3 separate regions of the Homo sapiens genome follow, and all the other regions are linked to region 2. Evidence: fine-mapped expression QTL. A gene starts in region 2. Each other region holds a variant in brackets. All regions are shown on one strand. Distances are between the middles of the regions.

Region 1 (2,500 bases), 24 kb before region 2:
ATAGGATGTATACATATGGCTGTATGCTTGCTTATTTATTTACTCACTGAATAGGCAAAAACACTTGCATGGTTCATAATGAAAAAAAGACAAAAGATAAACAGTCCCCTGTCTACCTATTTCCCATCTAAGCCTTATCTCCTCCACAGGTAACCAATGCATCTTGTTTCTTGTATAGCCTTCTAAAGTTTCTTTATGCATACACTGGCAAACTCAAGTATAGATTTCCCTTATTTTTTACACACAAAAAAATAGCATATTATATACATTGGTATGTGCCTTGTTCTCTTTCACTTGACAAATATCTGGAAGATCTTCCACATCAATGCATACTGACCTTCCTTATTCATTTCTTACTTCTGCACTGTATTCCAGTATGGGACTTTATCTTAGTTTGTTCGACCAGTCCCTGTGGCTTTAATGGAAAACAATGTGCAGTGAAAAACCTTACATATTCATATATCTTTTTGCTTATAGGCATATTTGTTAGGTAAAATCCAAAAGAGGAATTGCTGAGTCAAAAGGAATATACATTTGTAATTGTAATTTCAGAAAATATTGAAAAAGCTGAGTTGGGAGGATCATTGAGGCCAGGTATTACCAAATTAAGTTCAAGAGCATTGAGCTAATTCATATTGTCTCCAGGATTTTGAATGTGTTGTGAAACTTTTGGATTTTTGCAAATTTCTTGGTTTTAAAATAGCATTTCATCATAGTTTCAACTTGCATTTCTTTCTTTTTTTTTTTTTTTTTTGAGATGGAGTTTTGCTCTGTCGCCCAGGCTGGAGTGCAGTGGCGCAATCTCGGCTCACTCAACTTGCATTTCTTACAGTATAAATGTCGTGTACCGTTTTGGAGATGAAAAGCCAGCTGAAATTCCTAATTCTTAGGTGTATATGGATATTCTATTCTGTTCCATTGGTCTGTCTATTCACACATCATTACCACATTTGTTTCATCACAGAATCTTTTTTATAAAAGTCCTTTTACCATATTTTAATCTCTAATGGGGCTTTTTCTGTCTTTATAATTACACTCCTTTTGAAATATTTTGTAGCTATTCATGTTTTCTGTTCTATATGAACTTCAGAATCAGCCTGTCTGGTTCAAAAAGAAATCAGATGATGCTTTCATTAGGACTGAGTTAAATTTAAAAATTGATGTAAGGAGAATTGACCTTTTATGATGTCAACTCATTCTAAGAACATAATATGTTTTGCATTTGTTCAAGTCTCCATCTATGTTCTTAGTGTTTAAAATGTTCCTCAATATTTCATTGTATTGTATTTTTATAGATTTTATCCTCGCTGCTAATATTGTAATTGGGGTCATTTATTTGTCTTCTGTTTGTATGCTTAAAAGCTATTGATGTCTGTATGTTAATTTTACATCCCACTTCCTTACAAAATTCTCCTATTTGTGGTGGATTTTCAGATGATTTTCTTGGGTATATACAATGCACAATGCAATACAGTCATATAGTCACCTACAGTTACAATTTTTTATCTCCTTATATGTCTTAAATTTTTATACTTCCAATTTCCTTTTTT[A/T]TAAAATCAAATGGTAGATTTATTGGCTGTCTCTGTTACACAATGAGATGAAAACATCTTAATTCAGGACATCCTCCACCTTGCTTTGGTTTCCAGTTGTACTGCAAGACCAGTGTCAGGCACATAGGCTGATTAATCAAAGTTTCGCTCTTGCTGCCCAGGCTGGAGTGCAATGGCACAATCTCGGCCCACAGCAACCTCCGCCTCCTAGGTTCAAGCGATTCTCCTGCCTCAGCCTCCTGAATAGCTGGGATTACAGGCACCACCATGCCCAGCTAATTTTTTGTATTTTTAGTAGAGACGGGGTTTCACCATGTTGGCCAGGCTGGTCTTGAACCCCTGACCTCAGGTGTTTCACCCATCTCAGCCTCCCAAAGTGCCAGGATTACAGGCATGAGCCACCGTGCCTGGCCCCTAATTTCCTTCTTTTGTCTTTGCATTGAACAGTACATACAGAATAATACCAATTAACAAAAGTATACATTTTTGTCTTGTTCTTAACTTTAGTGGGAATGCCCTCAAATACCATGATGTTGCCTCTGGTGCTTTGTTGGATTTCTTTTACGAAGTTAAGAAAGTAATTTGCATTTTTATATTTTTGAGTGTTATTATAAATAATTGTTATTACATTTTATCAATGTATTTCCAGTGTATAGGAAGATGGTCATACAATTTTCCCTTTATAACTCTTAATATGATAAAATATATGTTTTCTACTACTGAAGCATCCATGAATTATTGGATTAAATTTCCTTGGTTCATGCATTGTTTTGACTATGTTAGTCTATTTTGGCGGAGGAATTTTTTACTTCATAGGCAAAATTTGTCTATTTTTGTTTTTGATTTCTACTAGTGTTGGTAACCAAATGGTGTTTACTTTATTTAAAGCTTTGGGCTGGGCACAGTGGCTCATGCCTGTAATGCCAGAACTTCAGGAGGCCAAGGAATGG
Region 2 (2,500 bases):
GCGCGGTGCCGGTGCCTCCTGCGGCGGTGGCGAAGGCTGGGCTCCCGCGCTCGCCCAGGGCTGCCGGGTGGTGCTGAACCTGGCGCCAACGTGCAGAATCCGCCGGCCCTGCGCGCTGCGCTCCACGTAGGTCAGGAGTACCCGCGGCGCCCCATTCCCAACCCTCCGGGGGCACCTGGTTGCTCGCGCTCCGGACCAAGGCAGTTGGAGGCCTTTCGGTCCTCTGGGAAATGGAGGCCCACCTGCATCACATGCACCTCTCCCTGCTCTTCCACCAGCAACCCTGGAAGCTCTCTGGAGTCCAGAGGCAGCTCTCTGGGGGGCCACCGTACCACCCCCAGGACCCCCTCCCTCTCTTTCAACTCCGTACAAAATGCCGCCTTCGGATTCCCGGGAAAACTTGCCCACTTTGTAGAAGCACCCCATCAAAAAGGGGGCGGCGAGGGGCGGGCGCACCGTGGACACTCGAAGCCCCCGGCACACACCCCAGACAAAAGCCCGGTTCCATGCTGCTCCACCGCCCCCTCCTACTGCTCCGAGTCGGAGTTACTTCTTGCCTCTAGGACGCTGGGCAGCAGGGGCTGCTGCCCACCTTTGGAACCCTCCCCGCAAGCTCCAGCCCTTTACCTGAGTCCCGGCCTCGGCGGGGCCTCCGGTGCTCAGCACCCGGCTCAGTGCCCCGTGCGGCCGGGCTGGTGGTGTGGTGGGGATCGCGGCCGCCGCTCTCCCCTGCAGCTCCGGGCCAGCCGGGCGGCTATTTATCCGAGCCAGCTGCGGCCCCGGCCCCTGCCGGAGTATTAGGCAATCGGTCCCGCTACGCGCTGCCCCGGGAGCCGCCGCCCTCTGCCCCCACAGACCCGCAGCGGCGGCGGCCACATGGAGCTGGGGAGCCGGCCCCCTTCTCTGAGCTCCACCTTCTCTTTCGCCTTCTCCTCCCCGGGGTTTTCCCTGCTGTCTTTTTCTCCCTTGTCTCTCTTTGCGGGGCACCCCGGCCAGTCTGAACCGGTTGTGACTGCGCGGGTGGTTGGGGGAAGGAGGAGGAGGAGGCGGAGGAGATGGAGGCGGAAAAGCGGGCGGTAGGGGCGCTGCGCCTGCTCCCGCTGCTCCCGGCCCGGCCAGGAGTAGGGAGGGCACTGCCCGAGCCGCGGCCCCGGCCCTACCAGGCCTGGAGCCACCAAAGCCACGAGAGAGGTGGGCGCCGTCGGCCAGGCGCCCTCTCGGTGCGCACACACGCGCGTCCCCAGGCGCCGCTGTGCCCCCGCCGCCCACCACGTGCCCTGGCCAAGCCCGCCAAGGGCCGTGCGCGTTTGGGGGGAGCCGGGGTGTACAAATGAATGCGAGTGTTCCTTGGTCTCCCTGGCTCCCGGGGCCGCTGGCGCCCTCCTGGCCGGAGCTGTATGCTCAGCTGGCAGTGGTCCCGGAGAAACGGGCACCAGAACTTTGTGGAGTCCGTGATCCTGGGAAGTGAGGAGTGAGGATGCCAAGTACAGTCCTTTGTGACAGCTCCGCGGGAAAGGAGGGCGTCCTGCGGTGCACACACACACACACACACACACACACACACACACACACACACACACACAGGCTGCTTCTAAGGACGTTCAGTCTGTCCTGCAGTTGAACTGCACTAACAATACTACCATTGGCAATACTATCTTTGGTAATGGGCTTGCGCGCAGAGATGGATGGCTGTTTTATCCCTCAGTCACTGCAGCAGCTGGGGGCTGTCCATAGGTACCAGTGGTTCGCCGGCCGTGGGAAACCTCCAAAGTGATATGCACTTTTTGTGTTCCTCTGTGTTTTTTCTGGGAAGCCGCACCACACTTTCTACTTCTTAAAGGGGACTGCGGCCATCAACCACCTTGATGAGAACTTCCTTTATACACTGAAGTGACAGGTCCTGGCCTAGACGAAGACTCTACACCTGGCAAAGGGTTGGTTTCAGAAGTGCTGATCAAGCTGCTGAGCCTCTGTTTCCTTGTCTATGAAATTACAAGAATCTTGCCTGTATCATGGAGTTTGTGTGAGATGAGAGTTTAAAAAACCTGTGGAGCCTAGGCAACCATGTCATGTTTTCTTACAGCACAAATGTGGTGGAGGTTCAGCCCTTTTGGCCCCCATCAGTCCTTTCTACTCAATTTATTGACTTTCAGGTTAGAGTGAAGAGAATGACCACTGCTAGTCAATAGTATTTTGTTTTGTTCTAAGAAGGAAAAAGAGAAGAGGGGAAAAGTAACAGTGAGAATGAGAGCAACATGGTCCCAAGAATAAGTTCTGGAAGGAAAAATGGAGAAACTGTACTGTCAACACCATAAAAAACTTACTTCTAAAGAGGCAAGGGAACACAATAGGGGATTCTTAGGCTGTATTTTTTTACCTGGTTTATGGTTACTCAAGTGCGTTCACTTTGTGGTAATGCGTTGACCTATACACTGATAATTTGTGTTCTTTTCTCTATGTTTCAATAAAATAGTTTTTTTGAGATGGAGTCTTGCTCTGT
Region 3 (2,828 bases), 39 kb after region 2:
TTAACATTAACTAAGCTGAGAAATAATAAGAATGCTGCCAAGACATGGTGTTTGAGAGATGGGTCTAGAATCAGACTGACAGAGTTTGAATCTCAGGTCTGCCACTGTGCATGAGATCTTAAGCAAGCTACGTTAACTCTGTGCCTCAGTTGGCACTTCCATAAAGTGGGGATAATGGTACCTGCTTCTTAGGGTAGCCTGATAATTCAATGAGATAATGCTTGTGCCTAGAAAGTAAACATTTAGTAAGTGATAGTGTCTATTATTAATTACAGTTTAGCATATTACTGTTAGACAGTAGCCCTTGAATGAATCATTCTTCTCAAGTTCTCTTTAAGTACCTAAACAGGCAAAACTGTTAAACTCCTATTCATCCTTTGAGATTCAATCTCACCTCCTCTGTTATCCAATCTGACTTCCTTAGACAGAATGTATTTCCGACTTGTCCGTAACATGTTGCCAGTGACCACACTGTATCATGGTTGTTTACATGCAATACGCTATAGTCAGTGATGCTTTCCTAGAAGGTAGGGGACGGCCTTATTCATCCTGGATTCCAGTGCCTCACACTCTCCGACACTAATTAGTTCTCAAAAAATACTGACTTGACTATACTTAAAGCAGAAGCTTTCTGGGAAGAATGAAAGTTCACTTTGTCCAAATGACAATTACAACAAGAAAAACATACATAATAAGTCTACTTCTCCCGGCAAATAATTTTAAAAATAAAATCCCAAAGTTGGGTGCTTGCAACTTGTCTCCCTATGGAGAACATCTCCCTTTCCCAGAAAGTTTATGTTCAAGACAACTGTCTTTTAGAAACTTGAGAAATCATATGAGAACTATGTCTTATTAATGCTTTTTCTTTTGTTTTTTTTTTTTTTGCTTATAATTAGGGAAGCAAGTCAAGTTGTTGGAAGGCAAGAAAAACTTGGCACAGGACGTGCAGGGTTTTAGAATGGGATGATCTGTTGGGATGGCCACCGTTTCTACAGCATACTGGAGGTTTGCCCTCACTAAACTCAAATTCGAGTAATTTGGGAAAATTTGGGCATATGCAATGGTAAATGGATTTTTTGTGTTCTGTAAGCTTCTAAAATTTGAGTTCAAGCTGCATTTTCTGAGCTCATTAAGGTCCCCTTCAATTCTGCCCGAAGTTGAATTATATGAGAAAGGAAATTTAACACAAATCTGAGAAATTAACTTATCAATGACATGAACATTATATCATAGAAAGCTTGTATGGGAATTAAATAATGCATATGGCTGTATGTTTAAATGATGGCAGGCATTATTCTTGCACCTTGTTTCCTGATTAAGACATGATCTCAGGTCAATTATTCTCTTTCCAGCTAAGAAAAACAATAAGGGGGAAAGACTGGAAATACTAACGAAATGTTGGTATAGAAAAGATATTGGAGCTTTTGTAAACTTCTCATTTGACAAACAAGGCCCAGAGAAGTGCAGAGACTTGTCTGAGGTCACACAGTGACTTTTTCCAAAGCTAGTGCTACAATTGCCTCAGCAATTTTCTGACATTTATGATAGACTGGATTCTGCATTTCACCAGTCAGCTACGTGAGGAGAGTCTACCTTCATCACCCTCCAACATCTTTGATTCCAGCCCATGTATAACCAGAGAGTCCAGATCAAAGCAAATCACAAGTGAAAAGTAGAAAATGTGGCAGGTCAGGGCCACAAGGCAGAGAATTTGACAAGTGGACTTCGACTGAACACAGAAACATGTTAGTCACAGATGATCAGTCAGCAAGGTGGAGTGAGGAGAGAGTACAGGATCTGAACC[A/G]GATGGAACCAGTTTGAGATCCTGGCTCTTACCACTATTAACTCTGCAGCCTTGGACAAAGCACCTGACCTCAGATGCCACCTCATCTGGAGAACAGAGAGAGTAATATCTGTCTTGTGGGGGGTTGAAAGGACTTTATTCATAGCTAAAGTTCAGTGCCTTCTATACACACTTATTTTTAATCTCATAAAACTTTATGAGGTGGAATATTCATACCACTATTTTCTTATTCAAAAATACAGAAACCCAGAGAGGTTAAGATAGCTGTCCAACGTTACACACGTACTAAGAGGTGACCAAGGATTTTTATGGAGATTTGTTTGGCTCCAATGCCCACGGCCTTAGCCACTGCAATATTGCAGGACTGGTAAAAATGTAAGCCAAGAGGCCAGGCATGGTGGCTCACACCCGTAATCCCAGCACTTTGGGAGGCCAAGGCAGGCAGATCACCTGAGGTCAGGAGTTGGAGATCAGCTTGGCCAACATGGCAAAACCCTGCCTCTACTAAAAATGCAAAAATTAGCTGGGCGTGGTGGTTCGCACCTGTAGTCTCAGCTACTCAGGAGGCTGAAGCACAAGAGTCGCTTGAACCTGGCAGGCAGAGGTTGCAGTGAACCGAGATCGTGCCACTAAACTCCAGCCTGGGTCTCAAAAAAAAAACAAAACAAAACAAGCAAACAAAAAAAGTAAGCCAAGAGCCCAGCATGCTGCCTGACACTCAATAAATAGTGCCTAGTTCAGTGAAGCAGCAGATTCAGAAAGATGGCCACTTCCTTGCAGCCCAGCCATGAAGAGGGATGGAGTAGCTCAGTTAGATGAGAGGAAACAAATAGCCCTTAAGAGATGGAAAGCCCAGAGAAGCTGAGGCAGACACACAGACACATGAGCAGCAGGGTGTTGGCTCGCCTGGCAGCACTCCTGAGGGTCCATCTGATCACCCACCCGCCCCAGGTCAGAAAGCAGGTTTCAGACCTGTCAGGAGCCACTGTGTTTCTCTTCTCTTCAATGGAACCTCCCTTGCTCT

Direction of the effects. Positions count from the first base shown, and alleles are read on the strand shown. Sizes are in standard deviations (SD) of each study's normalised expression.
For the expression in thyroid of the gene that starts at base 999 in region 2, allele T in region 1 goes with a lower level than allele A (small effect, 0.23 SD a copy in GTEx).
With allele A in place of G in region 3, the expression in cerebellar hemisphere of the gene that starts at base 999 in region 2 is higher (moderate effect, 0.74 SD a copy in GTEx).

The links.
Region 1: its variant is fine-mapped to the expression of SLC16A9 in thyroid (GTEx, PIP above 0.99).
Region 3: its variant is fine-mapped to the expression of SLC16A9 in cerebellar hemisphere (GTEx, PIP 0.98).

What each region holds. Positions count from the first base shown.
Region 1 is chr10:59,685,242-59,687,741 of GRCh38, forward strand. All of the region lies in intron 1 of SLC16A9 (solute carrier family 16 member 9), which reads right to left. Among named protein-coding and RNA genes, the nearest start is that of SLC16A9, 23 kb to the right of the region's middle. The variant A/T (reference allele first, on the strand shown) is at 1,551.
Region 2 is chr10:59,708,852-59,711,351 of GRCh38, forward strand. It overlaps SLC16A9 (solute carrier family 16 member 9), which reads right to left and starts at 999. Exons shown (of 6, transcript NM_194298.3): 1 at 628-999. RefSeq lists an enhancer at 142-341 and silencers at 572-631, 772-841, 1,072-1,341.
Region 3 is chr10:59,747,222-59,750,049 of GRCh38, forward strand. The region is part of intron 1 of MRLN (myoregulin); the gene reads right to left. Among named protein-coding and RNA genes, the nearest start is that of MRLN, 4.8 kb to the right of the region's middle. The variant A/G (reference allele first, on the strand shown) is at 1,805.